Regions from separate parts of the Homo sapiens genome. Here region 2 is linked to region 1. Evidence: fine-mapped expression QTL. A gene starts in region 1. The other region holds a variant in brackets. All regions are shown on one strand. Distances are between the middles of the regions.

What was found. PIP is the estimated chance that this variant, and not a neighbour inherited with it, causes the effect. A credible set is the group of variants that fine-mapping cannot tell apart.
Region 2: its variant is the best candidate, but not a certain one, in a credible set for the expression of SUOX in whole blood (INTERVAL, PIP 0.60).

What each region holds. Positions count from the first base shown.
Region 1 is chr12:55,995,342-55,999,341 of GRCh38, reverse strand. It overlaps SUOX (sulfite oxidase), which reads right to left and starts at 2,066. Exons shown (of 5, transcript NM_001032386.2): 1 at 2,003-2,066; 2 at 1,619-1,727. It overlaps RAB5B (RAB5B, member RAS oncogene family), which reads right to left. Exons shown (of 6, transcript NM_002868.4): 6 at 2,659-4,000. RefSeq lists a silencer at 2,017-2,206 and an enhancer at 1,792-2,292.
Region 2 is chr12:56,073,854-56,078,369 of GRCh38, reverse strand. No RefSeq gene overlaps it. Among named protein-coding and RNA genes, the nearest start is that of ERBB3, 4.1 kb to the left of the region's middle. RefSeq lists an enhancer at 373-422. The variant C/T (reference allele first, on the strand shown) is at 2,310.

The DNA of each region.
Region 1 (4,000 bases):
ACTCCGTCCCTACAAAATAAAAAGTTAGTTGGGCATGGTGGAGCGCACCTGTGGTCCCATCTACTCTGGAGGCTGAGAAGATCTAAGCCCAGGAGTTTGAGGTTACAGAGTGAGCTGACTGTGCCACTGCACTTCAGCTTGGGCAACAGAGAGCGAGACCCTGTCTCAAAACAAAAACAAAAAAAAGTTATATGAATGTGGTCTCTCTCTCAAAATATACTTTTTTTTGGCCAGTCATGGTGGCTCATGCCTATAATCCCAAAATTTTGGGAGGCCAAGGAAGGAGGATCACTTGACTCCAGGAGTTCAAGACCAGCTTGGGCAACATAGTGAGACTGTGTCTCTAGAAAAAAAAAAACAAATTAACTGGGCATGGTGGTGCCTGTCTGTAGTCTCAGCTACCGGGGTGGTGGGGAGAGGAGTGCTGAGATGAGAGGATGGCTTGAGTCCAGGAGGTCGAGACTGCAATGAATTATGATGGCGCCACCGTACTCCAGCCTGGGCAACAGGGCAAGACCTTGTCTCAAAAAAAAAAAAAGCCTGGGCGATGGAGCAAGTGTCGATCATGGCTCACTGAAGCTTCAACCTCTTGGGCTCAAGCCATCCTCCTGCCTTAGCCTCCCCAGCAGCTGGGACTACAAGTGTGTGTCACCAAGCCTGGCTAATTTTTCTGTAGACATGGGAGTCTATGTTGTCAGGGCTGGTCTTGAACTCCTGGCCTCTTGCTGCCTTAGCCCCCAAAGTGCTGGGATTACAGGCATGAGCCACTGTCCGGCTTCCCCTCCCCTCCCCCTGCCCCTGACAGGGTCTTGCTCTGCCCAGGCTGGAGTGCAGTGGCGTGATCTCAGCTCACTATAGCATCAAACTTCTGGGCTCAAGCCATCCTCCTGCCTCAACCTCCTGAGTAGCGGGGACCACAGGCGTGTGCCACCATGCATGGTCTTTTTTTTTTTTTTTTTGTAGAGATGAGGTCTTACTATGTTGCCCAGGCTGGTCTCAAACTCCTGGGTTCAAGTGATCCTTCAAACTTGGTCTCACAAAGTCCTGGGATTATTACAGGCATGAGCCACCACTCCCAGCCTCAAAATATCTTATTGTACTGTGTTCAACTATTTTCCAAGCGGTTGACCATAGCTAACTGAAACTCAGGAAAAGGAAACTTTGGATAAGGGGAGACTGCTGTAATAACATTGTCTTTGAAGGCTTTTCAGTCCCCAACTCTCCCTCCATTCACCCTAAAAAAAATTGAACCCAGCTGGGAACTGGACCCCAACCTAGGGTCCCGGACCACCTCAATCTTCTCTGTGCCACTGTAGTGAGCTCAGCAAATTGAGGAGTTAATGGCCAGAGTGTCAGGGGCAGGCTGGAGAAGGAAGGTAATTTTTCTGCTCTCTGCCCTGCAAGTTTCTTCCTCAAATTGCTGAACAGAGAGCACTGACCCAGCAGGGCCAAAGTGAGGAGGGGTGACAAATGTCTAAACTGCTGATGAGATGCTGGAGACCAATGTGCTGGGGTGGGTGGGTCGTGGGTAGGGAGGAAAGGAAACCTAGAGATGGGAATAGGAGCAGTCTTCACCTTGCCCCTGGGCCATGGGACCATTACTCTCTCTGCCACCTACCTCAATGCCAGCAGCCTGTTTGTACTAGACCAGAGCAGTGCAGGTAGGGCTGACTCGCAGGTGAACTCAGTGAGCCCAGAATCCCAGGTTTGGGAGGGACAGCCTTTTGCTGTAATACAGAAATGCCACCCGTTGGTGCAGGTGATGACCCCTCACTCCCCATGGGCACGTTAGGTAGGAACATACGTCCGGCATCCAGGCACAAAAGGGTCTTGCGGCAACACCCCGCGATCTCAAGAGCACCCAGACAGAAGGAGTGGAGGCAGGTACTGATAGTTTTGTTGCCCTTGAGGTTCGGAGCACAGCTGGACACCAAGGCCCCCTCCGCTGCCCAGCTCAGCAGCCCTTCCTCCCCAGCTTCTTTACCACCCCCAGTCTCCTTACCGGGTCCAGTGTCTTCAGCACTGCAATTTTACCAGCCCAGCTCTGCGAGTTCTCGAGAAGGGGCGGGGCCAGCGCCGTTATGTCCGGCTGCAGTAAGTGACCTCTCACTCCCCTCAGCTTATCCCTCAGCCATTGGCTGGAAGCGGGTGGCTCAACCATTGGCTGGAACCCGCCTCCTGGAGCCGAGACAGGCAGGTTGCTAAGAAGCCTGGGAGAAGAGGCTGGCTCTTTTTGCTGTCACTCTCGCCAACAGTCCGGAGTCCATTATACCCCTGGTGTGCAAAGAATGGGACCCTTGTGCACCAGGGCTGTATGTCCGGAGCTCGGGCAGTGTGGAAGGTGACAAGGAATCCAAAAGTTGGGCTGACAGGTGGGAGATTTTGAGACACCCCTGCCGCCCCTCCCTGGAGGAGGCCTCGGGATCCAGTCCGGTTTTCCCCGGCTGTGATCTCCACTTTAAACCCAGGGTAGACCTACCTCTATCTACTCTGTTGCAACTACAACTACCCTGTTTATCTTTTAGGGAAAGCAAAGTCAATCGCTTAGTTCTCGTATTCCAGGAATGATAACAGAAATGCCTAAAATAGTGGTTCCAAGAATTTGAGATTCCTTGGGCTAGTCGAATTTCTCCCCAAACAAAAATGAAACAACAACACTGAATAGCCGTCTTTTATTTTGCGTAGAAAAAAAAAATAATAATCGCCCCTTGGTGGCACACGCCTGTAGTCCCAGTACTCGGGAGGCTGAGGCGGGAGGATCGCTTAAGCCCAGGAGTTCGAGGTTGCACTGAGCCAAGATCGCGGCACTGCACTCCAGCCTGGACAACAGAGCAAGACCCCATCTCTTAAAAAACAAACTGCCCCTTAACAAGAGCAATGGCAGCTTAACACCCCGAAGTATGAAGGTTGTAGTCTCTTATCTCAAAGTAAGGGGCATAAATATAATACATTTCCTATTACCCTTTTGTCATTTGATGCAGGACAAAATTTATCAAACCTAGTCCCCCAATCTGGACAAATGTATCCATACACTGCCCTCTAGAGGCCGGACGGTGGAGCTGCAATTTTAATCAGTTTAAGTGAAGGTGTTCACCTTTAATTTTGAAAGATCATTTCCTTTCCTTTCGGCTCTCCAACTAGAGCTTTTACCAGGAATCAGGGAACGGGGGTGGGGGGTATTACCAAGAGATATAAGGTAAGGGAACCGACAGTGAAAAGTTGGCAAGTTGGCTTTGGCTCTTAAGTGTTTGGAAATGGAAAGGATTTCAATCTGTATACAATCAAATCACTGAAGAAGGCTAATGCCCAACCTATCCTACCAGTTGTTAAAAAAAAAATATATATATATATATATATGTATATATATATGGAGAGAGAGAGAGTGAGAGAGAGAGAGAGAGGGAGAAAGAGGGAGAGAGAGAGAAAGCGAGCTTCAACCTAAAAAAAAAAAAGTCTCAGCCAAAGGAAGATACAGAGAAGTCAGTTAGGGACTATCTAAAAGCCTCCTTCCTAATAGTGTCATCTACTTTTGTGTGACACACATACTTTACATAATTGACCTTAATCTTCAGCTTTTACTTTACAGATGAAGAAACGAGGCGGAAGGCACTAACTAACTTGATCAAGGCCACAGCTGGTTAAGTTGACAGAGACAGGCCTAGAATGTCAGATTTGTCTGGCACCAGTCCTCTTTCCTATCCACCTTCAGATTCTTTGGAATTTAAAGCCTACTGCAACCACACATAATCCTATTTCATTTCCCTTCCCTCGACCTTTAGACTGTGGTGGACTGAAGGGTTTGAAGTACACTAGGAGTCAAGAGCAGATCCAGAGGAAATTTTCCCGTTGAGGTGGAAGCTACAAGAAAACTAACTCAGTGATGTTTTTCAACCTTTGGGTCATGGACCCCTTTGAGAAACATATAGAAATGGATCCTAGAAATATGCACATACGGCCGGGCGCAGTGGCTCACGCCCGTAATCCCAGCACTTTGGGAGGC
Region 2 (4,516 bases), 79 kb before region 1:
AATCCCAGCACTTTGGGAGGCCGAGGCGGGCAGATCACTTGAGGTCAGGAGTTCGAGACCAGCCTAGTCAACATAGTGAAACACCGTCTCTACTAAAAATACAAAAATTAGCTGGGCATGATGGTGGGCACCTGTAATCCCAGCTACTTAGGAGACTGAGGCAGGAGAATCGCTTGAACCCGGGAGGTGGAGGTTGCAGTGAGCTGAGATTGCATCACTGCACTCCAGCTTGGGCGACAGAGTGAGACGCCATCTCAAAACAAAAACAAAACATTGTTTTGTTTGACCTCATGGCCTTCTGGTCTGTTGCTTTTTTTTTTTTGACACGGAATCTTGTTCTGTTTCTGTCACCCAGGCTGGAGTGCAGTGGCCTGATCTCAGCTCACTACTGAGTTCAAGTGATTCTCCTGCCTCAGGCTTCCAAGTAGCTGGGGCTACAAGGCGTGCGCCACCAAGCCCGGCTAATTTTTTGTATTTTTAGTAGAGATGGGGTTTCACTGTGATGGCCAGACTAGTCTCTAATTCCTGACCTCAGGTGATCCACCCACCTCAGCCTCCCAAAGTGCTGGGATTACAGGTGTGAGCCACCACACCTGGCTTTTTTTCCTTTTTTTGAGACAGGATCTCCCTCTGTCACCCAGGCTGGAGTGCAGTGGTGCAATCATGGCTCACAGCAGCCTCAACTTCCCAGGCTCAGGTGATTCTCCCACTTCAGCCTCCCTAGTAACTGAGTCTACAGGTGGGCACCAAAATGTCTGGCTACTTTGTTTATTTGTTTGTTTGTTTTTGAGATGGAGTCTCGCTCTGTCACCCAGGCTGGAGTGCAATGGCGTGATCTCAGCTCACTGCAACCTCTGCCTCCTGGGTTCAAGGCATTCTCCTGAGTTTCGCTTTTGGTGCCCAGGCTGGAGTGCAATGGCTCGATCTTGGCTCACTGCAACCTCTGCCTCTTGGGTTCAAGCTATTCTCCTGCCTCAGCCTCCTGAGTAGTTGAGATTACAGGTGCCTGCCACAACACCTAGCTAATTTTTGTATTTTTAGTAGAGACGGGGTTTCACTGTGTTGACCAAGCTGGTCTTGAACTCCTGACCTTGGGCAATCCACCCACCTCGGCCTCCCAAAGTGCTGGGATTACAGGCATGAGCCACCACACCTGGCCTTACCATCTGGCCTTACCTAGGATTTCTTTATTATTTTTGTATGATATGGAGATGCGGGGGTGGGGGTGGGGGTCTGGCTATGTTGCCCAAGCTGGTCTTGAACTCCTGGCCTCTGCAATCCTTCCACCTCAGTTTACCCAAATTGTTAGGATTTCAGATGTGAACCATGCCTGGCCTTACTTAGGATTTCTTACTGTTCTACTGAGACTGGAGCTTCATGTGTTCAGATTCACACTCCCATCAGACAACAGTGCTGATACTACTTAAGGGTCTCCACTCCTACCTACCCTCCCCCACATTAAAGGGCCTTTCATTTTATTACTCACTCAGCTCCAGCTCAACCTGGTATTCAGGGTCCGAGTTCTGAAGGAGAAAAATCTTCCTTGGTTTCCTTGTTTATACACTGTTGTATCTACTTATAAGACTGTTGATTGGTCCCTCCCCCTCCCCCTCCCCCTCCCCCTCTCCCTCTCCCCACGGTCTCCCTCTCTTTCCACGGTCTCCCTCTCATGCGGAGCCGAAGCTGGACTGTACTGCTGCCATCTCGGCTCACTGCAACCTCCCTGCCTGATTCTCCTGCCTCAGCCTGCCGAGTGCCTGCGATTGCAGGCACGCGCCGCCACGCCTGACTGGTTTTGGTGGAGACGGGGTTTCGCTGTGTTGGCCGGGCCGGTCTCCAGCCCCTAACCGCGAGTGATCCGCCAGCCTCGGCCTCCCGAGGTGCCGGGATTGCAGACGGAGTCTCGTTCACTCAGTGCTCAATGGTGCCCAGGCTGGAGTGCAGTGGCGTGATCTCGGCTCACTACAACCTACACCTCCCAGCCGCCTGCCTTGGCCTCCCAAAGTGCTGAGATTGCAGCCTCTGCCCGGCCGCCACCCCGTCTGGGAAGTGAGGAGTGTCTCTGCCTGGCCGCCCATCGTCTGGGATGTGAGGAGCCCCTCTGCCTGGCTGCCCAGTCTGGAAAGTGAGGAGCGTCTCCGCCCTGCCGCCATCCCATCTAGGAAGTGAGGAGCGCCTCTTCCCGGCCGCCATCACATCTAGGAAGTGAGGAGCGTCTCTGCCCGGCCGCCCATTGTCTGAGATGTGGGGAGCGCCTCTGCCCCGCCGCCCCATCTGGGATATGAGGAGCGCCTCTGCCCGGCAGCGAC[C/T]CCGTCTGGGAGGTGAAGAGCGTCTCTGCTCGGCCGCCCCGTCTGAGAAGTGAGGAGACCCTCTGCCTGGCAACCACCCCGTCTGAGAAGTGAGGAGCCCCTCCGTCCGGCAGCTGCCCCGTCTGAGAAGTGAGGAGCCTCTCCGCCCGGCAGCCACCCCATCTGGGAAGTGAGGAGAGTCTCCGCCCGGCAGCCACCCCATCCGGGAGGGAGATGGGGGGGTCAGCCCCTCGCCCGATCAGCCGCCCCGTCCAGGAGGGAGGTGGGGGGGTCAGCCCCCCGCCCGGCCAGCCGCCCCGTCGGGGAGGGAGGTTGGGGGGTCAGCCCCCCGCCCGGCCAGCCGCCCCGTCCGGGAGGGAGGTGGGGGGGTCAGCCCCCCGCCCGGCCAGCCGCCCCGTCTGGGAGGTGAGGGGCACCTCTGCCCGGCCACCACCCCGTCTGGGAGGTGTACCCAACAGCTCATTGAGAACGGGCCAGGATGACAATGGCGGCTTTGTGGAATAGAAAGGCGGGAAAGGTGGGGAAAAGATTGAGAAATCGGATGGTTGCCGTGTCTGTGTAGAAAGAAGTAGACATGGGAGACTTTTCATTTTGTTCTGCACTAAGAAAAATTCTTCTGCCTTGGGATCCTGTTGATCTGTGACCTTACCCCCAACCCTGTGCTCTCTGAAACATGTGCTGTGTCCACTCAGGGTTAAATGGATTAAGGGCGGTGCAAGATGTGCTTTGTTAAACAGATGCTTGAAGGCAGCATGCTCATTAAGAGTCATCACCACTCCCCAATCTCAAGTAATCAGGGACACAAACACTGCGGAAGGCCGCAGGGTCCTCTGCCTAGGAAAACCAGAGACCTTTGTTCACTTGTTTATCTGCTGACCTTCCCTCCACTATTGTCCCATGACCCTGCCAAATCCCCCTCTGTGAGAAACACCCAAGAATTATCAATAAAAAAATAAATTAAAAAAAAAAAAACCTTAAAAAAAAAAAGACTGTTGATTGGATTTTTTTTTTTCTGAGACGGAGTTTCGCTCTTGTTGCCCAGACTGGAGTGCAATGGGGTGATCTTGGCTCACTGCAACCTCCACCTCTTGGGTTCAAGTGATTCTCCTGCCTCAGCCTCCCGAGTAGCTGGGATTACTGGCGCCTGCCACCACGCCTGGCTAATTTTTGTATTTTTAGTAGAGATGGGGTTTCACCATTTTGGCCAGATTGGTCTTGAACCCCTGACCTCAGGTGATCCACTCGCCTCAGCCTCCCAAAGTGCTGGGATTACAGGCGTGAGCCACTGCATCTGGCTGACTGTTGTTTGGATTCAATGAGAAAAGTCAGGTGGAGCTCTGAATTACTGTGCTCAACCTTTAAGAAGCATTCAATGAACGCTAGCTGTATCTATTGCTATTTTCCCAACCCCAACCCTTCCCTCTCAGCTAGATCCCAAGATGCGATGGATTCTTCAACACTTAGGGACACGTCATGCTAAGCATCCCGGATATACACAGTAGATAAAGCTGCCAAGTAACTGGCCACCTCTGTTGGGTGCTGTCCTGACTGAATAAATGAAAGAAGGGAGGCTTTATTTATGAACAATCTCTGCAGTTTTCCAGCATCCCTTTATCTTTCCTTACTCTTAGCTGATGACTTTGGCTATTATTTTACTGTGAAAATAAAAGTAAAAGAAATCATCCTGGGCCAGGTGCAGTGGCTCATGCCTGTAATCCCAGCACTTTGGGAGGCCAAGGTGGGCAGATCACTAGTCTCAGTAGAACAGTAAGAAATCCTAGGTAAGGCCAGGCATGGTGGTTCATGCCTGAAATCCAAACAATTTGGGCAAACTGAGGTGGGAGGATTGCAGAGGCCAGGAGTTCAAGACCAGCTTAGCCAACATAGCCAGACTCCCCATCTCTACATCATACAAAAATAATAAAGAAATCCTAGGTAAGGCCAGGCCTGGTGGCTCACGCCTGTAATCCCAGCACTTTGGGAGGCCGAGGCGGGCAGATCATTCGAGGTCAGGAGTTTGCAACCAGCCTGACTAATGCGGTGAAACCCTGTCTCTACCAAAAATACAAAAACATTAACCAGACATTGTGGTGCATGCCTGTAGTCCCAGCTACTCATGAGGCTGAGGCAGGAGAATAGCTTGAACCTGGGAGGCGGAGGTTGCAGTGAGCTGAGATCGCATCACTGTACTCCAGCTTGGGCGACAG